4 linked regions of the Homo sapiens genome follow. Changing the gene in region 1 together with any one later gene gives a genetic interaction. Each region holds a gene or a part of one and is shown on either strand. Other genes may lie near its edges.

The links.
Region 2: changes in ATP5MF (region 1) and DONSON together harm fitness less than expected from each alone (positive genetic interaction), as found in Homo sapiens cells (one large-scale study listed by BioGRID).
Region 3: changes in ATP5MF (region 1) and EIF3H together harm fitness more than expected from each alone (negative genetic interaction), as found in Homo sapiens cells (one large-scale study listed by BioGRID).
Region 4: changes in ATP5MF (region 1) and MAPKAP1 together harm fitness more than expected from each alone (negative genetic interaction), as found in Homo sapiens cells (one large-scale study listed by BioGRID).

Annotation. Positions count from the first base shown.
Region 1 is NC_000007.14:99,454,916-99,462,768, forward strand, and holds the end of ATP5MF (ATP synthase F(0) complex subunit f, mitochondrial), read right to left. Parts: intron 5,279-7,853; coding exon 5,171-5,278; intron 4,349-5,170; coding exon 4,232-4,348; intron 3,441-4,231; coding exon 3,412-3,440; 3' UTR 3,280-3,411; downstream 1-3,279. Other genes in the region: ATP5MF-PTCD1 (ATP5J2-PTCD1 fusion protein), read right to left, coding at 5,171-5,278; CPSF4 (cleavage and polyadenylation specificity factor subunit 4), read left to right, coding at 1,517-1,585. UniProt on the Homo sapiens protein: Subunit f, of the mitochondrial membrane ATP synthase complex (F(1)F(0) ATP synthase or Complex V) that produces ATP from ADP in the presence of a proton gradient across the membrane which is generated by electron transport complexes of the respiratory chain.
Region 2 is NC_000021.9:33,582,185-33,585,928, forward strand, and holds part of DONSON (protein downstream neighbor of Son), read right to left. Parts: intron 2,585-3,744; coding exon 2,406-2,584; intron 1,483-2,405; coding exon 1,304-1,482; intron 63-1,303; coding exon 1-62. UniProt on the Homo sapiens protein: Replisome component that maintains genome stability by protecting stalled or damaged replication forks.
Region 3 is NC_000008.11:116,743,244-116,751,859, forward strand, and holds part of EIF3H (eukaryotic translation initiation factor 3 subunit H), read right to left. Parts: intron 3,884-8,616; exon of another isoform or gene 1-3,883.
Region 4 is NC_000009.12:125,670,137-125,678,752, forward strand, and holds part of MAPKAP1 (target of rapamycin complex 2 subunit MAPKAP1), read right to left. Parts: intron 5,162-8,616; exon of another isoform or gene 5,018-5,161; intron 2,508-5,017; 5' UTR 2,439-2,507; coding exon 2,180-2,438; intron 1-2,179. UniProt on the Homo sapiens protein: Component of the mechanistic target of rapamycin complex 2 (mTORC2), which transduces signals from growth factors to pathways involved in proliferation, cytoskeletal organization, lipogenesis and anabolic output.

The sequences.
Region 1 (7,853 bases):
GTGGTGGTGCACGCCTGTAGTCCCAGCTACTGGGGAGGCTTAGATGGGAGGATTGCTTGGGCCCAGGAGGTCAAGCCTGCAGTGAGCTATGACTGCACCACTGCACTCCAGCCTGGGCAACAGACTGAGACTCTTTGTCTCCAAAAAAATAAAAGAGCATGGAAGTGGGGCACTGTGTAGAGCAGACTTAGCTGTTATCTTGCCACCCTCCAGGCCTGTTAAGCGGGGCCACTTCTGTGCAGCAAGCGCCCTTAAGTCCTGGAGCCTTAGAAAGGTAGGGCTGACCGCCCCTGTCCACAGCCTGTCACCCCATTAATGTCAGAGACACTTCATGTAAGTCCTGGATTCCCCAGAGTCAGCTGTGGGGTCCGACAGACATGCCAGATGCCGTGAGCAGGGTGTGTGGTCCCTCCCCCAGCCATCATGTTAGCCCTACAGCCCATCGGCAGCCTCTCCATACAGAGTCACACCTGCAGATCAGACAAAGTTGAAAACACAGGGACAGCTGGGTGCGGTGGCTCACGCCTGTAATCCCAGCACTTTGGGAGGCCGAGGGGAGCAGGTCACAAGGTCAGGAGTTCGAGACCATCCTGGCCAACATAGAAGAAAGAAAACAGGAATTGCAGAGCCAGGGAATAGAGCTGGCAAGAGTGTTGGGTGCCAACTGGGCAGAGCCCCTCAGGGCAGCAGGGACTCAGGGGTGGGTGTCAGTACAGAGTCAGTGCCCCCAGCTGCCTCCTGACCCTTTTGTTCAGTGCTTGAGGCTGCCGTTTTAGGAGTCATAGAGTAAAGAGAAGCTATGGAAGGGCCTGGATAATCAGGACTGGGATGAGGCAGGGTCAGGGCTGGATTTGTCATGTGGCTCTGCAGGCTCCCCTTACCCAAGTCTAAGCATCGTCCCATCTCTCTGATCCTGTAATCAAAACCTGTCCCCAAGGTAGCTTAGGTGTGTCACAGCCACGAGGGAAAACGTTGGGTACAGCCCACCCTCTGTCCCCAGCAGTGGCTCCCCAAGGGAGGGGAGGCTGGGACACTTCTGATGCTGTTCCCTCCCATCTCCTGCCAGGGAACCCCAGACCTTGGCTCAGAGGTAAGTGACTGGCCTGTGGTGCAGAAGGGCTTGGTCCCCAGACGGGGTGGCGGAGCTCAGGTGCCACGGGCTTCTCTTTGTCCTGCTACCCACTTGGGAGTCCCTCCCTGGGCAGGCCATGTGTCCAGGTGGGAGAGTTGTGGGCCTGAAAGAGCAGGTCGCTAGCAGGTCGCCTTCTGGCGGCCTTGTTCTCCCTTGCATCTGCGGAGTTGCTGGCTAGTTTCTGCACCACTGCACTTTCCATCCTGAGCTCCCTCACCCTCTAATTTGAAAGAAACTCTGTACCACTGAGAATTTCAGAGTCATGTCCCGACTGGGGACTTGGTGGATGATTTGGGATTTGGTGGGCACTCCCTTAGTTGAAAACTGCATTTGAACAGTGTTGTTGTCTGTCTCTCCTCTTCCCCCACTTCCTGCTGTTCCCAGTGTGGCGAGAAAGGACACTACGCCAACAGATGCACCAAAGGGCACTTGGCCTTTCTCAGTGGACAGTGACAGCAGCTGGAGCCAGCTCCGAGCAGCCCGGGGGCCCCGCTGTTGGGAGTGTGCATTTAACTGTTTCATGCGCTTGTTGGCGCGACTGTGGCTCGAGCTGGCCCGCAGACACGTGGGTTTCATCACTCTGAGGGGCCACGTCTGTTAGTTTCCTATCATTTTGCCTTAGTATTTTTTGAAAAAGGGACATGTGTCCTGTGGGTCCCTGCAGTCGACATCATGTTTGGCTGGGCATCGATGCCTCCTTTCTGGGACTCCCGGCACAACTCCCCTCATCCAGGGAGGGAGGCAGCTGCTGGGGAGGGGCTTGGCTAGGTAGTTCTGTGTGGCGGTGGTCATTCCCCTCATTAAACACCAGTTCTTGGTGACGCCAGGGGCTGGTAGGTCATTCAAAGCTGTGGCCAGCTCACGCCTGCTTCCTCCCTCCCTGCCCTGCTGAATCCTAAAGCTGTGCCTATATCTGTGATTTGAATGAGGGAGCCCTTTGGGGCAAATTCAGGTGCCCCCATTGCCTCAGGCTGGCCCTGGTCCCAGGTGGCAGCGGTTGAGGAGGGGTACAGGGCTCTCAAGCCTGAGGTTTTCTTCTCTGGGCTTAATTTTCTCTTGGGGTACGTGCCTGACAGTGTTTAAGGTGTCCGTTGAACTGGAGTTGCAGACTTTTAAATAGATGACCCCTTCAGATCATCTGTGCCTACCTCCTGCCCATCAGGCGTCTACACTGTCACTCAGACACCTGTGGCATGTGGAGGAGACTGCCCTGTCCTGAGCCTGGAAAATGTGAAACTGTCTCCTGCAACCTGCTGGGCATGTGGGCCTGGCTGTGTTCAATTGCAAGAACAATTTTTATGAAATGGATTAAAGCTTGTTTTTTAAGCCATGTCTCATTAATTAAGGGTCTCATGCCAACCCTTTTACACTGGCTGCAATCACGGCGTAGCTTTCTTGTCCCTTTCAACAAATGTCAGCCTCACAAAGGGAAGTGCAGCTGCCCAGAAGGCCTGCAAGCAGCTGGTCAAGTCTGGGAGTCTGATCTGTGGAGCCAGCAGGCAGGTCCTCCACCTCAGCTCAGATGTCTGGTGGCACCTATTTCTGGGGCACAGTATCCCACCCCCAATGAGGCTCTGATGAAGAGGAAGCAGGGAGGGGCCGCCATAGCCCCTCACTTTTCCCCATCACCCCCAACCCACTAAGCCTCCTGTTAGAGAAGCCGCCTCAGCCGGAGGGCCACAATCCCTGCAGCCTGGGCGTGAGTGCTGCCTGAGGTCTCTCCAGACAGTGCCGGGTCACCTCACCCTGTAGCCCTTGATGCCCCAGGGTGATGCAGAAACACAGGATGCGGGCCATCCCTGCCTGGAGCCACAGGACAGCCGGGGTGGGATCTGGCGCTCTCAGGTACGCAAGCCTTTGTGTTACACCATAAAGGGCCAGCCAACTAAAGGCCAGAATGTCTGCAAATGCACCTGCCCACAGCACTCATGGCAAGGGACGGACTTCGGCACTGCTGCTTCGGGAAGGTCTGGATGACACCCTGCCCTCCAGGGAGCTGGGACACGACCAGAGTGGTGGTCTGGGAAGTCCACAAAGGCCTTCACCGGTCAACGGCCTGGAAAGACGACCTCCCCCCACCTTGTGCCACAGGAGCCCCTGGAACATGGGATAATGGCTACGGCAGACAGGCAGGCAATCAGCACACGTACCAGTCATGTTTTATTTGGAGGTTAATTCCTATTAGGATATGAAAGGATTCAGCAACGATTGAGATTGTGTTCCTCACGGAGGGGCTCGGGCCAAGGTCGTGGGGTGGGGGGGTGCAGAGTGTGTCCTCTTCAGTGGTATTTGCGGAGCCGCTCGTGCTCTGAAGTCAGGAAGGCAAGATGGTAAGTATCTTAAAAGGTTACAGTGAAGGCACAGCATGGCAGGAAGCAGGCTGAGATCACACAAAGCCTTCCTGAGAATTCCCTTCAGAGATGACCCATGACCCGCCTGCCGGTGTCTCTGCAGAATCAGCAGACCCGGGGGGCACAAAGACACCTCAGGAGCCAACCTGCCACCTGGCCAACCACTTTCTTTCCAGAAGGAACAGAGGGAACACACGCTCAGACAAACAGCCCCAGAGAACCCGTCCTTCAGAGGCAGGACCGCCCTGGTGCCACAGAATGGGAGTGAGGTGGGGGTAGGGGGTGTACACTACACTGTCAGAAACAGCCTAGTCAGAGGCTGCCACCGACACCTCCCGCCAATCTCCCACCAGACAAGCTCCTCTCAAGCCTCAGAGCCGGAACAGCCATGCTTTTCTGGGGTACCAGATTATCCCACTCAACTCATTTCTCTTTCTGCATTGGCTACTAGGAAAATCGAGCCAAATTTTCACAGTGTGCTGTATTTTAAAGAATGCTTCTAAGTACTCTCTTTACCCTGGCTTCATCTTGATTTTCCTGTGTTCTCTTTGTCACAATTTTCTCATTTCAAACAATATCCCACATACTGTACTCTGATAGGTCCCTCCAATTCTTTTAGGTGGAAACATAAGGAACTTTAACTAAAGGTCCCTCAGCCTCAGAAGAAGGTGGGCTGCTGTATCTAATGAAATCAGTCACCACCACCCTCTCATGGGAACTAAAGGCAAGACGCCGCAGAGGCACTCACTGAGATGCTTGTAGGAAAAGGAGTAGCTAAAGAGCACGTAGCATGCCAGCACCATGGTAATCCCCGAGATGCTCCCCTTCTTCACATTGATGTACTTGTTGTAGTACCGGTAGTAACCTGCAAACGCAAGAGGCGCTCACTGCCCTGCTGGGCTTCACATTTGAGTGAAGTTGAGCACACAGTTGAGTCTGGCTGACATTCAGGGACCTAGTCCTGCTCTGGCTGTTTAAGCCCCTCGCCCTGCATTCACTGGCTGATAAAGATGACAAGCACAAATGCCAGTAAGGTCTCTCATCCCCATAGCCTGAACTATAAGCACATACCAGCTCCTGAACTAGGCCTACCTGGATTCCACCTCTCCCCTTTGGCTGTGAGCTTATAGCCTCCTGAGTAGCTGGGACTACAGGCATGCACCACCACAGCCAGCTAATTTTTCTTGTGTGGTTTTTTTTATAGAGATGGGGTCTCTCCATATTGCCTAGGCTGGTCTAAACTCGGCTCAAGCAATCCTCCAGCCTTGGCCTCCCGAAGTGCCGGGATTACAGGCATAAGCCACCACACCAGGCCAAGATAGGCCATTTCAAATATTTGTCCTGAAGTTCTGGCAGGGAGGAGAGCATCATATTATAGACTAATGCCCACTACGGTTCCAATTCATTTTCCTCTTAAAGAAGTCTTAGGATTTCTCTAAGACAGAGGCAGACATACTGATTCCAAGCAACAGGAAACATGTTCTTGGCTGTAATATCTCAGAGCCAGCCTTTGAAAGGGCCAATCAACCACAGAAGTCCAAGGCCTAGCATCCCTCCCTGTCATCCTCTACATAACTTACTGCTTTCAGACAACAAGGCCTTCATTGCCCAAATTAATTCATGGCAAAAAAGAGATCTGAAGACCCAGAGATTTGCTTTCATTTACAGACATCCACAAGGCTCTGACCTCTTTGAAACGCTCCGAAAATGCCACTAGGACTGAAGTCCCGCATCAAGATCCAGCTTGGCAGCTCCCCCAGTTTGACCTCCAGAAGTTTCTTGTCCTTCACTGGTACTGAAACGGAAGAGTGAGAAAAAATACCCACTGAATAATCTCCCAGTAACACATATGGCATCCTTTCCTGCCACTGCTTCAACTATGCAATAAAGGTGCATAATGCAATTACACAGAGGCTGCACATACACAATATTATGAAGAAATATGTCACATCAAGCCCACTATTTTAAGACTGAGTCTATACAATAGCAGAACTGCTGCAGGGACAGCTTTATTAACCAACAGGACGTCTGAGTAACAGCTTGCTGGGAGTAACTCCAGAAAAGGGTCTCGAAAAAAGCAGTAACGTGGCGGACAGGAAAGATTACTGCAAAGCTAACATTTACTTGACATTATTAGCTTATTTAATCTTCACAACAAGCACTTCATGTCTTTACCTTAAAGGAGGGGAGGGGGGATAGACTCAGAGAGGTTGGGCCACGTGACCAAAGTCACACACACAACGTGGGGTCAGGACTGGCCCTCCTATGTCCCTGAAGCCAATATGAGGGTGCCCTGTCCAACCCTGGGGATGTGTCGCTGGAGAACGTACAAGAGGGGATGTGGAAGGAGAGCGGTGTGACGGTGCCAAGTGTCTCACTCAGACTTGACGCACTTGTTTACTGGGGAAGGGCTTCAAACAGCACCTGGGTTCACACAGCTGGCAGACTCACCAGATGGGCCAGCCCGAGCAAGTATAATGAAAGAAACCCAAGGAATTTCCACCTCCAGCATCCTGGGACCACGGACACCAACAATTTCCAGAGATAAAAATAAGAGATAACACATTCCGAGAAGTCAAGTGACGAAAAACCACTCCAAATGACTGAACGGCCCCAGATCGTATTCCAATGGGAGTCTGAGAACAAGGAATCAGAAGGGCTCCTGGCTGAGGCTGTACTGTCCTCACATTTGGGCCCAGGAGGAGACTATGGAGGGCCAGGGAGTGGGTGGGCCTGTGGGCGTCAAGGAGATGCATTTAAGAAAGGAATCGTCTCCCCTGTTCTCCCTGCAAAGATTTATTTATTTATTTCTGAGAGACAGGGTCTCACTCCATTACCCAGGCTGGAGTGCACTGGTTATTCACAGGTGTGGTCACAGCTCACTGCAGCCTCACTGAGCCTCCTGGACTCAAGTGATCCTCCTGCCTCAACCTCCTGAACAGCTGGGACTACAGGTGTGTGCCACCACACCCAGCTAATGATAAGTTTTAAAAAGCTTTTAGCAGATGTCCTATTGAGGGCAAAGAGTCTAGGACCACGGTGCCTTCTCAAAGATAACCACAAGAGGAGCCAGATTAAATAATCCCAAGGTTTCTTCTCCATTTTGAGATCAAAGGAAAGACTAAGGCTCTGTCAGGACCAGCCTCAAGAGTCTGCTGAGGGAGGCCAGGGCACAGTAGTTCACACTATAATCCCAGCACTTTGGGAGGTCGAGGCAGGCAGATCACTTGAGGTCAGGAGTTTGAGACCAGCCTGGCCAACATGGTGAAACTGCACCATGAGATCACGCCACTGCACCTGCCCAGGCTGGAGTGCAGTGGCATGATCTCGGCTCACTGCAACCTCCACCTCCTGGTTCTAGCGATTCTCCTGCCTCAGCCTCCTGAGTAGCTGGGACTACAGGCATGCGCCACGACACCCAGCTAATTTTTGTATTTTTAGTAGAGACAGGGTTTCACCATGTTGGCCAGGCTGGTCTCGAACTCCTGACCTCAGGCGATCTGCCCACCTCGGCCCCCCAAAGTGCTGGGATTACAGGCATGAGCCACCGCACCAGGCCAGAAAACTCACTTCCTGATCCAGTGAAGCCATTTTTTCACATTCACATAAACTATGCAGACATATTCTGCATCTCATTACCATGTTCAGGGGCTGGCATGGAGCCTGGCACATCACAGGAGAAAAAAGGCAACAATTTACAACTTGTTTTTCTTCCTAGTTCTATCTCTGTATTATGAAGACAAGGGTGTTTCCTTAAAACCAACACATCAGGGGCCGGGCACGGTGGCTCACGCCTGTAATCCCAGCACTTTGGGAAGCTGAGGCGGGAAGATCCTGAGGTCAGGAAATCGAGACCATCCTGGCTAACATGGTGAAACCCCATCACTACTAAAAAAAAAAAAAAAAAAAAAAAAAAAAAATTAGCCAGGTGTGGTGGCGGGCGCCTGTAGTCCTAGCTACTAGGGAGGCTGAGGCAGGAGAATGGCGTGAACCTGGGAGGCGGAGCTTGCAGTGAGCTGAGATTGTGCCACTACACTCCAGCCTGGGTGACAGAGCAAGAATCCGTGTCAAAAACAAACAAAAACCTAACACATTTGGCAGGGCACGGTGGCTCACGCCTGTAATCCCAGCACTGTGGGAGGCCAAGGCAGGCAGATCACGAGGTCAGGAGTTCAAGACCAGCCTGGCCAACATAGTGAAACCTCATCTCTACTAAAAATACAAAAATTAGCTGGGCATGGTGGCGTGTGCCTGTAGTCCCCGCTACTCGGGAGGCTGAGACAGGAGAATCGCTTAAACCTGGGAGGTAGAGGTTGCAGTGAGCCAAGATCGTGCCACTGCAAGGGACTATCCAGTTCATCCAAGATGCA
Region 2 (3,744 bases), on another chromosome or scaffold:
TCCAGATGCTGTCTCCTTCTTATGGCCACTTTCTTTTATTAAAGGCAGAGAAAATTCAATACCTATATGAGGAACAAAAATGTAACTGAGTTGTCATTTAAAGTATTTAACAGGCATGCTGTACTTTTAGAGTGTAAAAAATTTGAAATGTTAGTTTTTACAAATGATCTATTAAGGCAGTAGAGTTTTCAAGCTTTCTTCACAAACCTACAAACATGCATAAAACGTATTCTCCTTGAAAGAGGTTCGGGAAACAACACATACATGTAACACTCTTTCATAAATCATATTGTATTCCAGTTCACTTTTTGAAAAAGTACTGATTGGGCCCATTAAGTAGATTTCATGATCCACTAATGGGTTTACTCAGTTTGAAAATTTTGTTATTAAAGGGGTAATTGGTACTATAGAAGAATTTCTAGAAGAGTATATTCAGATAGTGACTATCTGGCCCAATATGTGTTTTATTTTAGAGATCAGAGAACACTATGTGGAAGGAACAGTTTAAATCAGGAGTCCCCAACCCCTGGACTGTGGACTGGTACTGGCCTGTGGCCTGTTAGAAACCGGGCTGCACAGCAGGAGGTGAGCGACTGTCGAGTGAACATTACTGCCTGAGCTCCATCTCCTGTCACATCAGTGGTCGCATTAGATTCTCACAGGGGCACGAATCCTACTGTGAACTGTGCATGTGAGGCATCTAGGTTGTGCCCTCCTTATAAGAATGATGATCTTGTCCGGGCGCGGTGGCTCACGCCTGTAAGCCCAGCACTTTGGGAGGCCGAGGCGGGCGGATCACGAGGTCAGGAGATCGAGATCGTCCTGGCTAACACGGTGAAACCCCGTCTCTACTAAAAATACAAAAAATTAGCCGGGCATGGTTGCAGGCACCTGTAGTCCCAGCTACTCGGGAGGCTGAGGCAGGAGAATGGCCTGAACCCAGGAGGCGGAGCTTGCAGTGAGCCGAGATTGCACCACTGCATTCTAGCCTGGGTGACAGAGCGAGTCTCCATCTCAAAAAAAAAAAAAAAAAAAAAAAAAGAATGATCATCTGATGTGTAACAGTTTCATCCCGAAACCATCCTCCTCACTGCCCATGAAACTGATCCCTAGTGCCAAAAAGTTTGCGGACTGCTGGATTAAATAATTGTGGGGGAGGGAAAAAAAGCCAGAAATAAAGAAATAATATATTTCTTAATGTTGCTAATCAACTGGTAAAAGGCATTTTAAATTTAAATAGCTTTTAGGCCAAAATAGGTTTACTATATAGTATAGTATTCTCACTTTAAACCTAAACTTTTACCTTCATTTCTCATAGCTTCTCTTAAACCTCGAGTTGTTGGAGATATGAGAGCTGTGATTAAGTCACTTCCAGCTAATCCTGCTGCTCGGAACAGGACAGTAAACTGATAGGTACAAACGTAGAAATAGGGGCAAAGTTTTGTCTTCAGCAAATTATATAGAGAAGTAAAGCTCACAGACCTATGAAGTAAAAAAATTTTCTTAAGGTATTATTAAACATTTAATGCAATGTTTATAATTCTGAATAATTCAGTTTGATACCTGGTTTAAAACACAACACAAATATTTTAGATAATGGTTTTAATTTTTGTGGTTACGTATGACTTAGCTTTAAAGGACTGAAATTGGTTATGAGGACTCGCTGATGACTTCTCAATACTTTAACAAATAGTGTATACCACTTAAACACTTATTTTTTCTTTAAACAAAACTTAATTGAGAATTGCCTGCTGACTTTCTCTGAGCTGCTGCTAAAAAAGGAAGCAGAGACTGACAAGAAGTAGCATTAAAGAATTAGGGCTGCGTGTTTATATATATATATATATATATATATATATATACTTTTTTTTTTTTTTTGAGACGGAGTTTCGCTCTGTCGCCCAGGCTGGAGTGCAGTGGCGCGATCTCGGCTCACTGCAAGCTCTGCCTCCCAGGTTCATGCCATTCTCCTGCCTCAGCCTCCCGAGTAGCTGTGACTATAGGCACCCGCCACCACACCAGGCTAATTTTTTTTGTATTTTTAGTAGAGACAGGGTTTCACCGTGTTAGCCAGGATGGTCTCAATCTCCTGACCTTGTGATCCGCCTGCCTCGGCCTCCCAAAGTGCTGGGATTACAGGCGTGAGCCACCACACCCGGCCTGCCTGTCTGTATATATTTAACCAACACTTATATACATTCTACCACAATTGGGTAAAGAATGAGTAACAGCTAAAAAAAAAAAAAGTAAACAGTTTATATGTTGGTTATTAATAGGTTCAGATAAAATTCACAAGGATCTAGATACCCTTCTGCCATTAACGTATCCAGTCACAAATATGATAGAGAATGCTGCTAAAATAAAATTCACTATTGAATTATACAAGTTTCTCTTACTAATCTTACCAGTCACTCATTAAAACATGCTGCAGGGTTGCATCATTTGACCAAGGACTTGTCTTTCCAGCCATTTTTCTATCAGCTCCAATACGAGGGAACAGTGGTAGCCAAGACAAAGCAGGGTGGAGCCAATAGATAAGGCTCTGCTGGAAGGTACAACGGAGCTCAGAGGAGAGTTTGGGATCCTAAAATCCAAAGGTGACAGTGGGCAGTTTTTGCCCATTGAGAAATAGAGAATTTTATTAAAGACAATCTTTACCAAACACTTAGGTCTAAGAATCTTTATTGCTTTCTATAGGAAAGCATTAATAATTGTTATAGGAACGAAAACATAGTTTATCCTTATTTGAGCCAGATGTAATGGTAAGCCGTAGTATCAGAACATTTAAACATAGATGGGAACATTTTCCTGTTTCTACCATCCTTAAGGACAATGACTACCTTTTTTATCATGAGGAATAGGGGTGGGCATGTGTGTGTAGGTAACACTACATCCAACCCTCTCTCCAAAAGGCTGTTTTAAAAGTAGCCAGTAAACACTGATACGGCAAATCACAAATCATCCTAATCTATTTATTGAAAAGATGTATAATATACCAAGACCTTTTTCAGGGTAATCCTTTTTAACCTAGTTTGAGACTTTAAAAAAATTTTTTTAAGATAGTCTCACTCTGTCACTGAGGCTAGAGTACAGTGGCACAATCAGAGCTCACTGCAGTCTTGACCTCCTGGGCTTAAACAATCCTCCTACCTGAGCCTCCCAAGTAGCTGGGACTACAGGCACCCACCACCATGCTCAGCTAATTTTTTTTTTTTTTTTTTTTTGTAGAGATGGGGTCTCACTACGTTACTCAGGCTGGTCTCAAGCAATCCCCCCACCTCAGCCCCCAAAATGCTGAGATTACAGGCATGGGCTATTGTGCCCAGCCTCCTAGTTTTGAGTTGATGCTTTAAAATAATCAAAATGTATATCTCTAAAACCATTCTAGAACTCACAAACTCCACAAAATTCATAAAATTTTTCTTATACAGGTAAGAAAATCTGTAAATCCATCAGCCCTTGCAATCCCACCCAATTGCTTTTCACTTCTTTCTTTGTATTTTCTTTCTCAAAAAGCCTTAGAGAAAAATAATTTAACAATTCTTGCCTGCAACACTGATTAATTTGCAAGACAAGTCTCTAAATGTATGAGCAGTTACTCAATCTGACTTAAAAAAAAAAAAGGTATGAAAGCACCATAAGCACCATCTGGGAAAGACAAAACTTCCTGTCTTTGTATCTTTAAATTTCCAAAGAAAAACTTAATGGAAGGCAGCATCTGCTATTTTGCAAAGGAGAGCATTT
Region 3 (8,616 bases), on another chromosome or scaffold:
AGTTCAAAACCAGCCTGGTCAATATAGAGGCCCCATCTCTACAAAAGAAAAATAAAAAAATTAGCCAGGCAAGGTTGCACACACCTATAGTCCCAGCTACTAGAAGGCTGAGGAGGAGGATCACTCAAGCCCAGGAGTGGGAAGCTGTGGTGAGCCATGACTGCACCACTACACTCCAGCCTGGGCAACAGAGCAAGATCCTGTCTCAAAAAATAATAGGCCAGGCACAGTGGCTCATGCCTATAATCCCAGTACTTTGGGAGGCTGAGGCAGGCGGATCACTTGAGGCCAGGAGTTCAAGACTAGCCTGGTCAACATGGCGAAACCCCATCTCTACTAAAAATACAAAACAAAAACAAAAATTAGCTAGGTGTGGTAACATGCACCCATTATGGTCCCAGCTACTAGGGAGGCTAAGGTGGGAGGATCACTTGAGCCCCAGAGGTGGAGGCTGCAGCGAGCCGAGATCGCACCACTGCACTCCAGCCTGGGCGACAGAGCGATACCCTGTCTCAAAAATACATACATATATATATATATATATATATATATATAAACACACACACACACACACACACACACACACACACACACATATATAAATAAGTTGGGAAATAAAGTTTGATTTTATTTTGTGTGTAATAGTGATTTTCCAAAGGGTTGAGTTTTAGGACTACAGCTGTCCATTGAGAAGATAACTTAGTCAGCAGCACTGTCCAAGTACAAAATAAAGTCTGTAAGACCAGTTATACAGGCTTTGGTGATAGTTGAGAAAGAGTGCAAGAACTGAACAGTACAGACAATGTAGTTATAAATTCAAAGAACTAAGTAAGTGATCTTAGGAAAAACCTCAAGAAATAGTCAAAGACGATACCAGAAGCCTTCATGACTTGGGTAGACAGTGGTTATCACTAATGGACAGGAAATAAAATCAGATGGCGACAGGGAGAGGTGGAAACATAGAAAGTATTAAAAAAAAAAAAAACAAACAGTAAGCCTCAAGATACAATAAACATCTGTGGCACTTAAGTACCACTTTAGGTACTATTTTGGAGGCAAAGAAAATCTTAAAATTTTATGCCAAAATGCAGCTGATGTTTAAAGGGTCAAAGACTCAAAGGATTAAAAATATATATATTTTGACTAAGTTAATACTGAGTTATCACTGTTTTTCCTGAATCCAATTTTTCTCTTATATGCTTGAGCATGGTACCAACATTAACAAGAATATGGCATATTACTCCAGCATATTTAAGCATCCACTTCAGCCCTTTCAGTTTTGATGAAACAAGTACAGTTTGTCATCAAACAGCTAAGTAAATTACACTACACTTTGCTATTAAACCTAATCTTTACTGCATATAGCCATTTTAAAGAATGATCTACCTACCAGTAGTAGTTTACAAAAAACGAAGCCATATTCTCTTTAAGATATTATCTAAAACCTTGCCAAATAAAATAACATCCAAGTACCGTAAATTAAATATTTTACGAAAAACATTATAAACTAATTTTGAAAAGAAAGCAAATGCAACTAAGTTTTCTGTAAGTGCTAAAATTAGGAGCTTTTATCTAAGAAACGACCTATGGTAGACTTGATGAAGTAAAAGAAAATCTAAACACAAAAATAAGAACTTGCAAAGATTCTTTTCAAACTTCATGCTTTGTAGAGGCTTTTTTCTCCAAGGTATGGGCTAGGACTGAGCTGCAAGTCCAGAGCATTGCTGCCAAGACTTAAAATACCTGGAGTTGCTCAGCCAAACCAATGAAGTCCAAGATATTGAACAAAAGATCCAAATTTATCATATACAGAAACCAGTTGAAGCAAAAGGTGACAAGAAGGCAAAAGATAAAAAATGCTTATTGTACACCCACACCTTTTAATGTTAAATAGATATGTGAGGCATTAACCATATAAATCCAGGCCAGATTTGCTGTAACAACTAAAGTTAAAATATTTTGATCATATTCCATTTACTTGGGAAACCATCCAGTTTGGAATCCAACAGTAACTATTACCAACTATTAAAATCAATATCTACTACTAAAAATCATATCAACAATGTAAGAAATTACCCATTCAGGTTCTCTTTATTACAGTAGGAAGGCCATTCACTATCTTCATATCAAACTAAGGCCTAGAGATCATAACTGATTTATTAAGTCATCTCCTCCATGAGAAGTACTGCATATGCTGCCTTAAATAATACCCAAGAAGACAGCTACAAGAAACAAATGATAGATTGTCATCACTAGCATATATGTCACGAACACAGTAAGCACTGTCAAAAAGCAAATGGCAATGAATTTCAATAAGGTGTCTGACCTTAACAGAAAGGACCAATGGCCCAGGATGTTTGCAGGTTTATCCAAATCTTGGGAGGAACATAAAAACGGAAAAGTCTGGCCCAGTGTGGTGTCTCATCCCTATAATCTCAGCACTTTGGGAGGCTGGGGCGGGTGGATTGCTTGAGGCCGGGAGTTCAAGACCAGTCTGGCCAACATGGCAACACCCCGTCTCTACTAAAAATACAAAAATTAGCAGGGCATGGTGGCACACAGCTACTCGGGAGGCTGAGGGGCACGAGAATCGCTTGAACCTAGGAGGTGGAGATCACAGTGAGCCAAGATCGGGCCACTGCACCCCAGCCCGGTCGACAGAGCAAGACTCTGTCTCAAAGGAAAAAAAAAAAAGGAAAAGTCAGATGGACTTAGAATTACCACCCAATGCAGGTAAACTAACTTACTTAGGGACACGTACCAGTACTCTTCCCAATGCTCCTTAATATGCTGATTTTCTTTACTATTGATCCCCAGTATCTTAATATGTGAACTCAGCAGTTTAAGGTTGCATTTTTCCAAACTTCAGAATATTTACTAAATTGACTTCTTATAGCTACAAATCTTCTACAATATGACTGATTATCAAACGTAAAGATTCTAATGTATGTTTTCTCATACATTTTAAAGTTAGAAGTCTGTAAGACACCTGAGTTCTGAAAAACATATTTCCCAATGCTCAAACAAGAAGCACTAGATTAACTATTCTGTACACACCTTAACTTCTATTTCCTCCATCTGTACATTAATCAAATCACATAAACTATTTGTACCCACGTCTCCCCATTGATAAAATAGGGATAATGATGGTTCCTATATCAAAGAGTTGTTGTATTGCTTCAATGCCATAATAAATACACAATACTTAAAACAGTACCTGTCACATAACACAGAATAACTACTGGGGTCTTCAAGTATATGAAGCTGCTATAAAATGTAAAAGAAAATGAGTCAAGGATGGCTAGATGTGATCTGAATTCAAGCTCCAGGATATATTCACTTTATGTCTTTGAAAAGCCACCCAGCTTCTTGGAGTGGGAGAATCACATGTATAATCCAGATAATACTAGTCCGCCCAGTTCCTGGAGCTACCAAGATATAATAATGTACGCTAAATGATTTTTCTATTATAAAAAGTTACTATTTGTAAGCAATAACATCTTACTTGCCTAAGCAAAAAATATAACTAAGCAATCAAAATGTCAGACTGCATAACGAATTTAATCCTCACTCACAAATACTCAGGTTAGAGATAATCCTGCATAACTGGTTTTTCACTCACAGCAAAAAAAAACCTGAAAAGCAAGGGGATAAGAAACAGATAAATTTAACAACCAAAAAAGGCACCAACTAGAAACATAAACCACTCAAGGCACCTAAAGTTCAACAACAGGGGACATTTATTATAGAAATAACAGACTACCCGAAGGGATTTCTTGACAGATCTACTGTCCTGTCTGGTTCAATAACATGTTTTTTTGTTTTTTTGTTTTTTTTGAGACAGAGTCTCTGCCTGTCGTCCAGGTTGGAGTGCAGTGGTGTGATCTCGGCTCACTGCAACCTCTGCCTCCCAGGTTCAAGCAGTTCTCCTGCCTCAGCCTCCTGAGTAACTGGGATTACAGGCATCCGCCATCATGCCCGGCTAATTTCTTTTGTATTTTTAGTAGAGATGGGGTTTCGCCATGTTGGCCAGGTTGGTCTCGAACTCCTGACCTCAGGTGATCCGCCCACCTCAGCCTGCCAAAGTGCTGGGATTACAGGCGGGAGCACGGCCCAATAACATGTTCTTAATGATAATACTATGCCATCAAAACATGGTTAGATTGTGTTCCATGTTCTCTGACTAAAGCAGCAGAAAATTATGTATTACACTTCAGAAACACATATAATTAAAATAGCTAAAATGTGCAAGTTTTGGTGCTTGAAAGGATTTCAAATTATCTGACTGAAAAAATTATCTCACATGTCAAACAACTTACGTATGCACCACTCAAGTCAGAAAACTGGAAGAAGAGGCCAAGGGTCATATAATTTTTTTTGTTGTTAAAACATTAAAAGGCCAAACTGTATTATACTTCAGACCAGGATCTCAGAGAAGAGCTTCCATTTCAATGGAATTTAAACAAGCTGTTGTCCAGTCTCTTTAAATTCATAAGAGTATCACAAAAAATCTACAGTGACACATGTGATAGCCTGGCATTACAAATTCGAAGTATTTGATTCAACTCACAAAGCATTCCCACCAGCCTGCTGCGGTGGCTCACACCTGTAATCCCAACATTTTGGGAGGCCAAGGTGGGTGGGTCACCTGAGACCAGGAGTTCGAGACCATCCTGACCAACATGGTGAAACCCCGTCTCTACTATAAATACAAAAAATTAGCCAGGCGTGGTGGCGCATGCCTGTAATCCCAGCTACTTGGGAGGCTGAGACACGAGAATCGCTTGAACCTGGGAGGCGGAGGTTGCAGTGAGCCAAGATCCACTTGAACCTGGGAGGCAGAGGTTGCAGTGGGCCAAGATCATGCCATTGCACTCCAGCCTGGGCAACAAGAGCAAAACTCTGTCTCAAAAACAAAAAAAAAAACAAAAACAAAACAAAACAAAATAAAAAACAAAGTACTTCCACCAAAATTTTTCCATTAGATTTGAATAACCATCAGGTAGGTAAGGTAGTGATAACATTTATCCCCAAAGCTGTTGTGAGGATCACAACATCTAAAATTTAACAAAAAATTTAACCAAACAACACAAAATTTAACCAAACATCCCTGTACAGGGTCTTATAATAGGTGTCCAATTAATATTAGTGATTTTTCAAACAGATAAGAAATCAACAAATAAAAAGATGGAGAAATATGAACAAGCCCAGAAAGCTAACTAGCTTATCCTCAACTGTGTGCTCTTTTCTCACCAACACTCAAGCATTTACTAACCCAGTTTCTTCATGATTGATTTTCAAGAAAATTTCCACACAACAGGAGTATATTCATTCATTCACAACATCTGAGTGCCTTCTATACACGAGGTACTGTTCTAGACCCTTAGAAATACTGTAGTGAACAAACCTGACATGGGTGCCACTTTCAGGAAGCTGATATTCTAGTGTGAAGAAATAAGCAACAAGTAAAAAGAGTTTCAGACAGAAACAAGGACCAAACTGGATACCAAAATTCGCAGATGCTCAAGTCCTTTATATAAAATGGTGTAGCATTAGTTATTGCATATAACCTAGGCACATCTTCCTATATATCATCCCTAGATTGCATATAACATTTAATACAATGTAAATGCTATGTAAATAATTATTATACTGTATTGGTTTTTATTTGTATTTTTAGTTGTTTTTTTCCTAGTATTTTCGATCCATGGTTGGTTGAATCCATGGATGTGAGATTGCTGGATTCAGAATCCAAAGATATAGAGAGCTGACTGTATATGTAACTCATACTTTTCTATTTATTAATAACATACTCTACCTTACTTACAAAACCAGGGGAATAAGGTATCTAATAAGATAACTTAAAGGGGAAAACAAAATTTAAAAGGTAAGAAATTTCAATAGCAATGGGTTTCAAGCACTGAATTATGGAGGAGACAAATGTTTTATACTTCAGCCTTCAAAAGGGTTATCATCTCAATGAGAAGGGGAAAATATATTAACAGTAAATCACTAACAGTATGGATCACATACCAAGGTGAATGATACAAGCTGTCATTAAAAAGCTCAGAGAAAGGAAGAGAGCAAGCTTCTTCTCAAACAGTAAAATGCTATAAATCACCTGATTGTGTAGGTCAGGAGAGGGGCCTGAGATTCTGTGATACGTATGTCTGCATTTCTAACAAACTCAAGTGTAGCCAACATTGCTCATCTTACTGGACATGGATCATACTTTGAATAGCAAGGTCTAATGAACATAAGAAAGGTAAAATTCAAATGTTCTAGGGAACAAAGTGGGTTCAACATGAAAAGTTTAACGGGAAGAATTAGCTTGATCTTGTCTAGGAACAATGAGACCACCTGACAGAATGAAGACCCATTCTTTCTTTATTTTTGTTTTTTTTCTTTTAACTCATCTGTATTTGTTACAACTTTAAGCAGAATGTGACTCAGGCACTACATTTCCATCCACAAGACTAGCTCTGAGTTATTTTTGAACAGCTTTACGACATGCTTAGGTAGGCTTATAACTTTGCTCCTCCAAATGATACTTTTCTTTGGAAAACAAGCCCTGTGGAGGGCTTACTTTTCTTTGGAAAACAAGCCCTGTGGAGGGACTGCTACATTACAGATACAGAGGAAGTGATGAAACAGGTCTAAAGGTAGGAAAGGAAGGGTTCAAAAATACAAGAAAAATTGGTCTTGGCCACTATCAATGTGCCAGGAAGGAACAAATGTGTTAAAACATCAGGCTAAACATAGGATGAGATTAATCTCTGGGTTCATCTACATCTATATATGACTGAGAATGGTCATGAGAGTCGGGACTGGGTTCTACCTTGCTCACCTATATAATATCTTATATAGGTTACTGCAATATACCCCAGCATGTAGCAGGGCTAGACCTGGCATGTGGTCGGCAATCAATAAATATTTGTTAAATGAATGAAGAACAGAATACATCTGGAGTATACAGATTCAAGTTAAACTATATGGAGAATTTTTAAAAAAACAGAGTAAGTCGATTAAGTCACATTTTTTATTCAATATGTGATGATGAAAGAGAACAATTTCAAAGAGAAAGAACTTCATGAACAAAAGCAAGGTCATGCTTACTGCTTTGAATAAGGATGTGACTCTAGGTCTGTCTTTAGCATGACTTTTTTTTTTTTTTTTTTTTTTCTGAGACGGAGTCTCGCTCTGTCGCCCAATCTGGAGTGCAGTGGTGCAATCTCGGCTCACTGCAAGCTCCGCCTCCCCGGTTCATGCCATTCCCCTGCCTCAGCCTCCTGAGTAGCTGGGACTACAGGCACCCGCCACCACGCCCGACTAATTTTTTGTATTTTTAGTAGAGACAGGGTTTCACCATGTTAGCCAGGACGGTCTTGATCTCCTGACCTCGTGTGATCTGCCTGCCTTGGCCTCCCAAAGTGCTGGGATTACAGGCGTGAGCCACCACACCTGGCCTTTAGCATGACTTATTAAAGAAAAAACTAAGTAGTCTGAGGGGCTGGAATGTACAGTTCCTACAAAGCTTGGAAAGAAAGGAAATAAACCTGAACATAAATGCAAGAAACAAGGACAACATTTTGGTCCTTCAATTCAATGGAAAGTCACTGAAAACATCTAAGGAAAGAAGTTAAAATCTGAATGTTCACGTTAAATAAACGTTTTAATAAAAGTATGAGGCCGGGCACGGTGGCTCACGCCTGTAATCCCAGCACTTTGGGAGGCCGAGGCGGGCGGATCACGAGGTCAGGAGATCGAGACCATCCCGGCTAAAACGGTGAAACCCCGTCTCTACTAAAAATACAAAAAATTAGCCGGGCGTAGTGGCAGGCGCCTGTAGTCCCAGCTACTTGGGAGGCTGAGGCAGGAGAATGGCGTGAACCCGGGAGGCGGAGCTTGCAGTGAGCCGAGATTGCGCCACTGCACTCCAGCCTGGGCGACAGAGCGAGACTCCGTCTCAAAAAAAAAATAAAATAAAATAAAATAAAATAAAATAAAAGTATGAATGGTAGACTGAAGAAGGCAGGGGAAAACAATATTAAAATAACCTGCATAAGATATTAGAACATAAATTAGTATAAATAATAAAATGGAATACATACTCATTCATTTATCCTACTTTGTGAATTAACAGGTTCAGCACTGGAGATAAAACAGGTGAAAAAGCATAGTCCCTGCCCTCAGTAGCATACATTCTGATGAGGAAAACAAAGAAGAAAACAAACAAGATAGTTACAGGCTGTGGAAAATTCTAGAAATATAGGGTGCTGTGATGGAAAGTAAGGAGAAGAACAAGTCTATAATTCTATTTTGTACATGTTAAATATGAGATGCCTATGAGATATCCAAATAGTGACGTCAAACAGGCAATGGGTATTCAAAAGAGGCATTCAAGAGCCATTACTGGCAGAAATATAAATCTAGGACTTATTAGAATATAAATATTTAAAGCCGTGAGCACAGATAAGAATACCTTAAAGAATACTACTATAATTACTGCAAATAAAGCAGCAGCAAAGCTTAAATGGTGACTTATTCTGTCCCAGACATTGTTCTAGTTATTGACATATATTCAATCCATTTAAAGTCTCAAAACAATTCAGATGA
Region 4 (8,616 bases), on another chromosome or scaffold:
AGATAGTATTAACATGGAAGAGAATAATAAAATGTGAAAACTTCTGTGATTAATATGACATTTCATTATATAAATCATTAATAACGGTCTTAAAGGAATTTTAATGCACAAATGAACTGAAGTGAATATTACATTACAGGAATAAAATTACTGTTATGAATTACTCTACCCATTTCAAAAATTAAAGATAAATGAACTCAGACTAGACTATTAAAGTTTTAAATATAAAATCCTTTATCTAAAAATCATGAAAATTATAAAATGTCAAAGCTATATAAATTAGCATAGCTTTTCTTCAGTGGGCTGAAACAGTTTATAGGTAGTAAAATAAATGATTTGTATCTTTGTAACATTAGTCAAATCTTAAAAAGAACAATTTTTCTTTTACAAAATTTTAAGATATGCTGCATGGATTAAAAAGTAAATTCTTTGGTCACTAAGACAACCTACAATCTCAATTAATTATTAGCATCTAAGTGCTACCTAAAGAAATTCCAACAAGAGTCACCTAAAATTATGCATTTGTGATTATATTGCCACTGGCTGATCAACCTTCAAAAATCAGTGAACTGATCCTTTAGAGAAATACCACCCAGCATGCACTTAACAACTGCCGCATACAGAGACCACAATAAAAAAGAAAGTCACAATTGATGCCATCTCTTGAAATCAGTTTTCTCTTGCTAATCTTCAGCTTCCTATCCCAGCATTTTGCTAATAGAAAATAAATACATCTCTTTTTCCGCCTCTTTCAAGATAGGAAATTATACACTTCTGCCTTAGCATTGTGGTAGGGAAACACTGAAAATAATCTTACCAGAAATTTAAACTATGCTGGGAAGAGCATTCTGACAATGTCACTATATCTAACCAACACTGAAGAAAACTACATTCAATTGCAATTAATAAATGTGAAGGGTACAGCCAAAGTAATATAATCATAAAGCTCTCAATTTAGCAGCATTCTCCCACTGAAATACATTCAACCTGTCATATAAGATATCATCTCAATAACCTGCAAGGAAGTCAGTTTCAACTAGAGAACTGAAAATCAATGGTTCTAAATTATATTCAAACCTTCACTCAAATCCTATTTTGACAAAAGTTCCTTTAGATACTGGGAAATGCTATTAATTATTTTCATCATGAGAGCAAATTATTCTTATGTCACAGATACTGAATTCTGAACCAAAACTTGAATGTGCCTTTCACAGTAAATTGTATCCAGCTCTACCTCCAATATTCCTTTATGTGTGTTTTACATTTGGACCATGAAAATAAATATGTAAGTATTTTCAGTGTTCTACTATATCTCCTTGCCATTACCTTTCCTGGGAGTTAGCAGGTTACTGCTAATTTGAAGATTATATTTTCTGATTATCTAAAAAAAATTACCTCCTAGAATACCTGTCATATTAGAACTACAATATGTATTCTAAATAATTTGTCTAAGTAAAAAAAAAAGTCCTTGGTTCATCACATTCCCCTTGAAACAAGGCCACCAAAAAAATATAAGTGGGAAAATGGGCAATAAGCTTTTAAAGCTAATGACTAAATACGTGTATACCAAAGTTGAGTGTTTTCAAGCCAGAAAAATCAAAAGGTGATCAATTTAAGAAAATAAAGGCGAAGTATCAAAAACAGGGGCCCCTTTTCTAATCTCACACCCTATGTATAGAATCCTACTAAAACCAGCCCTAACAAATACTCAGGTGTCTCCTCCCATTTCCCCACTCCCCCACAATTCCTCCAGGGGCAAGAAGTGCCTGCTCTCTTTGGGTGGTCACCTCTCTGTATTAAATGCTCTTTATTATGTCAACCTGAAATCTGTCTCCGGGTAGTCTACCTACTGGGACTAATGTTGCTGTGTGAAGACACTCAAAGCCAGTCCACTTGCCTTTCTACACAATGACTTGTTAGAAATGTCCAACATGTCTCTCCTAACCAACTTTTTCACTATCCCCCTTCTGTCTACTTCTAATAATATTCTAGAGGCCCTCTCCATTCGCAGTCGCAGAGATGGAGATGTTGCTCAGACTCACTCTTAGTCTGACATATGCATGTTCCTATTAATACCCGGAAACATCCCCCATTAAGCCTATTCCAATATTATGCATTATTCCATAAGACTGTTTACTGATTTAAAGCTCAGAAGACATGACTAGAACACAATGTTTACCTGTGTTTGAGCGTCTTCTAATACCAAAGTCCCAACTTGAGGTAATATCGACTGACTGGGCATATACATAGCCCTGAGTCTCACCATTGCTTCCCTGAATTTCTGACCCACTGTCTCCAGGCATTGAAGGAGGATGAATCTTCTCTAGGTCAACATCATGATCAATGAGAACCATCTCACACATTCCCGTGTCATCACTGGTCACATGTGACTGTCGAATATGAGCTAGAATGATAGTTGGATTGTCCAAGAAGGCCATCCTTTCTGTGGGCCAATTTCCTTAAAAGGCTATTTTCTCCTCTTCATATTGTTTCACGAGCTCACCTACCTAGAAACATGATGTACACAGCAAATATTTAAGAATAAGGCAGAAAATGACTGAATCATTTTTCAGACACATTCAGTGTAGTAAAATGCCACCTTGAAAATCAACATTTATCCCTGTTCTGTGGAGCTTAAAAGGATTTAGTCTAAGCTGAAAGGAAATCCTTATAAGCACTAGGGGCTGCAGCTCTAGTCAATGAGATCTCTATAGAATCAGAAAGGAAGGCTTGCACTCTTGCAAAACAAATCACAGCAACTCCTTACAAGTCAGGCCACTCGAAGCACATAACTACTGTTAAAACAATATATTTTCCTTTCTTTCTCCCTTCACTATCATGCAATCTTCTCATTACTTTATAAGGTCATGGGGGAACAAGTTGTATTTTCCTCAAATGATGTGCTAAAGTACAAAACTCTATTTCATCAGTTTACATTTCCCCTCCTGTCATATGATTGTGAAGTGTTTAAAAGGGCACAGACAATGCTTTCAGAGTTACTAGGGGTTTTATAAAAATGATGTACCACCAAATTAATGTTGCTCAATGAATATATTTTCCTGTCAAGATAGTATTGTGTTTTTGTTGTTGTTGTTGTTGTGTTTTTTCTGAGACAGGGTATCGCGCTTGTTGCCCAGGCTGGAGTGCAGTGGCGTGATCTTGGCTCACTGCAACCTCCACCTCCCAGGTTCAAGATTCTCCGGCCTCAGCCTCCCGCGTAGCTGGGATTACAGGGATGCGCCACCATGCCCAGCTAATTTTGTATTTTTAGTAGAAATGGGGTTTCTCCATGTTGGTCAGGCTGGTCTCAAACTCCCGACCTCAGTTGATCCGCCCGCCTTGGCCTCCCAAAGTGCTGTGATTACAGGCGTGAGCCACCATGCCTGGCCTGTGTTTTTAAAATAAAATTTATAATCAAAATTACCTACTATACAATCAACTTCTTATTTTAGAAACTTAATTATAAAAACTGCTTCCTCAGTCCTGTTAAAACTGTAATGAGGCCGGGCACAGTGATTCACACCTGTACTCTCAACCCTTTGGGGGGCCGAGGCAGGAGGACTGCTTGAGTCCAGGAGTTCAAGACCAACATGGGCAACACAATCAAAACTCTATCTCTACAAAAATATATATATATAATAATTATTATTTTTTAATTAGCTGAGCATGGTGGGACATGCCTGTAGTCATAGCTACTCATGAGGCTGAAGTGGGGGGATCACTTGAGCCCCAGCATTCAAGGCTGCAGTGAGCTATGATTGCACCATTGCACTCCAGCCTGGGTGACATAGTGAGACCCTGTCTTCTAAAAACAAAACAAAACAAAACATACAAAAAACACTGTAATAATATTTGTTCTAGTAACAAGATAGCACCCTCTCAGTTAAGTGAAAATACTCAACAAAGAAAATATTGCAGGACAACGGTTAGGTACTAGGCCCTAGAGACAGAAAGGGTTCAAACCCTGGCCCTATTACTCGTTAGCTATAAGATCTCAGTCAAAATACTTTACCTTTTTGAGCCTCCCTTTTTTTTTTCCTTCATTTATAAAATGGAAGCTTCAGGAGATAATGCAGGTAAAATGCTCAAAAAAATACATGGCATGTAATTAAATAAATGTTAGCTATTAATAATAATGATAAAAAATCAATAATTTCAATGATCAATTCTTGCTTAAAGTAGTCCTAAAATATGTCAATATCCCATCTGTCTTAGTAAGTTCGTGGCACATAAAATAAGTCTGTGCTTCCTTTGTGATAGAGGACACTGCAAGTCATCTGAGTGACTTCCCTGCCCCTGCAAAATTGTTGAGAAGTACAAGGAATATGAAAGCTGGATTGACTATGTTTCCAGGAACAGTCCTAGAAGATACTTACTTTCAGAAGGACTTATAACACCAGATTTTCTTGTAATCTGTTTCTTCTAGAAATGGAACATAGAGAGGAAATCTAGCTAATAAATCCTTACAGTTAACTAAGGTTTTAAAAATTGTTGTCTGGAAACACATCATTCTGCTGATGTGTCTTAAAGTGGGTCTTAAAATAAAGATACTGAGATTAAAAAGAAATTTAACTGAGGAGCATCTCTAATCAAGCAAATTACATTAATCTTCACTTTTTTCCTCTTAATATATTCCTTGAGTACTTATTTTACTCTGAGGCTAATGGGAAATGCAAAGGTGAGTAAGGTATCCCTGAATCAAAAAGTTAATACCCTAATACAGACCGAGTACATCTCCTAATACCATGGGATTCCTTTAAGCATCAAATTTCTGAGATATCTGGTCCCTGAAGTATTAGTGTCAATCTACCATTTTAAGGATATTGATCAGAAAAAAATATGAAATTAACAATGAGCATTTAAATTTCACTTGTAAAAATACAAACTTCTCTATAACCATAAAAAATGTATACACCACACATTTATTTATAAATGAGAGTATTTGTGGAAGCATAGTATCACAGATCAGAGCTGCAAACATCCTTCTACAGCAATCACAATAAGCCATCTTCCTGGCATGAAAGGAAGGCAGCTAGTCACCAGTAGAGAGGCAGGTGCTTTCAAATTCATACTGAATAGTTCTCCCTTGCAAAAACAAGGGCTTTAATGAGAAGTCACACATTTAATACACTTGATCTTAGCCAAAAGGCCGAGAAGTGATCAGATATTTAATAGGTGTTCTAGCACCAAAAAGTCAAATGGCAAAAGGCAAAGTGACAAAAGTATACTGAAGTGCCCTCAATAAAATCTATTCTAGGGAAATAGATCACTTCTGAAGATAAGAGGAATGGGCAAACACTTCTGAAGGCACATACCAACTTCCCAGCTTTATCCTCCCAGAACAAATGCCTCAACAGCAGCAGATATCTTCTCTATTAGGACACTATGACTTCATACATTAAGGAATCTGTATGATTCATTCAAAAAATATTTATTCCCTACCAGCTCTGATATGGAACTCCCACAGGACTGCCCCAGAAAACATATTATTGTGTATGTCACTTTTTACCTCCAATTACATGTACTTAAAGACTTAGACTATAAGTTCCACAAGGACAGGGTTCATAACACCATATTCCTTCTGGCAACAAAGGCTGTTATACATGGCAGGAGTTCAATAAATGTTGCTGTCTAACTTCCAAGGACTATTCAATTTTGTTGTAGAGATAAGTCATATATGAATGTGCCAGGTGTAAGTGTGTGATTATAAATAAAGGATTGTCTTTTTTTCGTAATACAAGAGCATCTCTTCAACGTGCCCTTCAAAATTGTCCCCTTGGAACACTATTCAACTTATTCTAACAAGACTACTTTTCAAAACCCAAAAGAATATTTTAAAAAATCTCCCAAAGAGCAGCAAATTATCATTTGAAGCTATGTTTGATTTCCAAGACAAGGACATACATATCACGGATAAAAACAAATTGTACTCTCTGATCAGTTGTGCACAGATCAAAAAGATTTTTAAAAATCTAACTCTGGCAAGGGTTCAGAGAAATGGGCACTCTCATGCACAATATGAAGGAATGAAAACTGGGACTTTTTAGACGGTAATTTGGTAATATTTACCAAAATATAAAACATGAATACTATCTGGGCAATCCTACTTCTAGGATTTGTTCTAAGGAGATAATTGTGTAAAATATTTATCTCAGAGTAATTTGTAATACTGGAAATCTAAAAGGAACCTACAATAGTACACATATGCCATGACACATACAAACAACACAATACTAAGTAGCGATTAACAATACATGGTAGAGGGTGAACAAAATGTGGTATATAACGATGGAATATTGTTCAGCCTTCAAACACAGGAAATTCTGACACATTACAACATTGATGAGCCCTGAGAACATTACGCTAAGTGAAATAAGCCAGTCGCAAAAGGACAAGTACCGTATGATTCCATTTATGAGGTACCTAAAGCAGTCAAACTGACAGAAAGTCTAACAGCAGTTGCTAGGAGCTGGAGGAAGGTAGTAATGGGGAAAAAGTATTTAACGGGTACATTTCAGTTTGGGAAGATGGAAAAGTTATGGAAATGGACAGTGGTGACGGTTGCACCATAATATGAATGTATGTAATGCCAATGAACTACACATTTAAAAATGGTTAAAATGGTAAATTTTACTTATCATTTATACCATGTATATTTTACCACAATTTAAAATTTTTAAGTTTTTTTAAAAAGTCTAGGAAACACCAGATTCAACCAAGTTAAAGAGGTTTTCTTCTTGCTGTTTCATCACAGGACTTCCCAAAGCTTTTAAATTATGTACTTTGTGTATTATGACTCTCCAAGAGGGAGGAATCTAGTAACAATATATCCCAAACTTATTCCATCCATAAATATTGTTTTCTGTAGGAATACTAAACATATCAATGTATAACAGCGTTTCACAGAACAAGGTTTAGAAATGCTATTCTACACTTTCACAAATGCTGTCTCTTCAGGCCTTGAATGCCTTCCCTGGATGTTACCAACTCTTGATTCTCTGACACAGCCAGACGTCTTTTGGCCGGGTGCAGTGGCTCACACCTGTAATCTCAGCACTTTGGGAGGCCGAGGCGGGCGGATCACTTGTGGTCAGGAGTTTGAGACCGACCTGGTCAACATGTGAAACCCCATCTCTACTAAAAATACAAAAATTAGCTGGGCGAGGAGGCTAAGGTGGAAGAATTGCTTGAACCTGGGAGGCAGAGGTGAGCCAAGATGGTGCCACTGCCCTCCAGCCTCAGCAACGGAGCAAGACTCCATCTGAAAAAAATAATAAGGCCCGGTACAGTCACTTATGCCTGTAATCCCAGCACTTTGGGGGGCCAAGGCAGGTGGATCACCTGAGGTCAGGAGTTCGAGACTAGCCTCGCCAACATGCTGAAACCCCGTCTCTACTAAAAATATAAAAAGTAGGGGGGCGTGGTGGTGCGTACCTATAGTGTCAGCTACTCGGGAGGCTGAGGCATGAAAATCTCTTGAACCTGGCAGGTGGAGGTTGCAGTGAGCCGAAATTGCCACTGCACTCCAGCTTGGGCGAGAGAGCAAGATTCTGTCTCAAAAATAATAATAATAATAAAATAAGATAGACCTTTTTACATACCTTTAGGCCACAGATAAATAATATCACCTTGCCTAAGCTTTCCCACTTTTCACAGCTTCTTTCTCACACTTTTTAACACCACGTTCTTTAAAGCATAAAGATTTGTTTTACTAAAAATGGAAGCAATAGGGATATCCATGCACAGTAGAAGGAAAGAAAGAGATGTCCCAAAATAACACAATTTTTTTTTTCTTTTTGAGACAAGGTCTCACTCCCATCGCCCAGGCTGAAGTGCAGAGGCATGATCACGGCTCACTGCAGCTTCAACTTCCCAGACTCAGGTGATTCTCCCACCTCAGCCTCCCAAGTAGCTTGGACTATAGGCTCACACCACCATGCCTGGCTACTTTTTGTATTTTTTGTAGAGATGGGGTTTTACCACATTGCCCAGGCTGGTCTTGAACTCCTAGGCTCAAGCTATCTACCAGCCTTGGCCTCCTAAAGTGTTGGGATTACAGGCGTGAACCACTATGCCAGGCCAACACAGGCATTTTTATTTTATTTTATTTTTATTTATTTTTTTTTGAGACAGAGTCTCGCTCTGTCACCCAGGCTGGAGTGCAGTGGCTATCTCTGCTCACTGCAAGCTCCGCCTCCCGGGTTCACGCCACTCTCCTGCCTCAGCCTCCTGAGTAGCTAAGACTACAGGCGCCCGCCACCACGCCTGGCTAATTTTTTGTATTTTTAGTAGAGACAGGGTTTCCCCATGTTAGCCAGGATGGCCTCGATCTCCTGACCTCGTGATCCGCCCGCCTTGGCATTCCAAAGTGCTGGGATTACAGGCGTGAGCCACCGCGCCCGGCCCAGGCATTTTTAATATACTAGGTGGGTCTCCTTTTACACTTCAAATGAATAAATATTCAACAAATATTTACTAAGTTTCTACTAAGTGCTAAGAGTGGTTTCAGATGCACTTTGGATACTGTTCCCAGATTACACACCCATCTGTATTCATTAATGATCATGAAACCTGCCTGTGGTAACTAGGAACATGTTCTAAACATGGGAATAATTT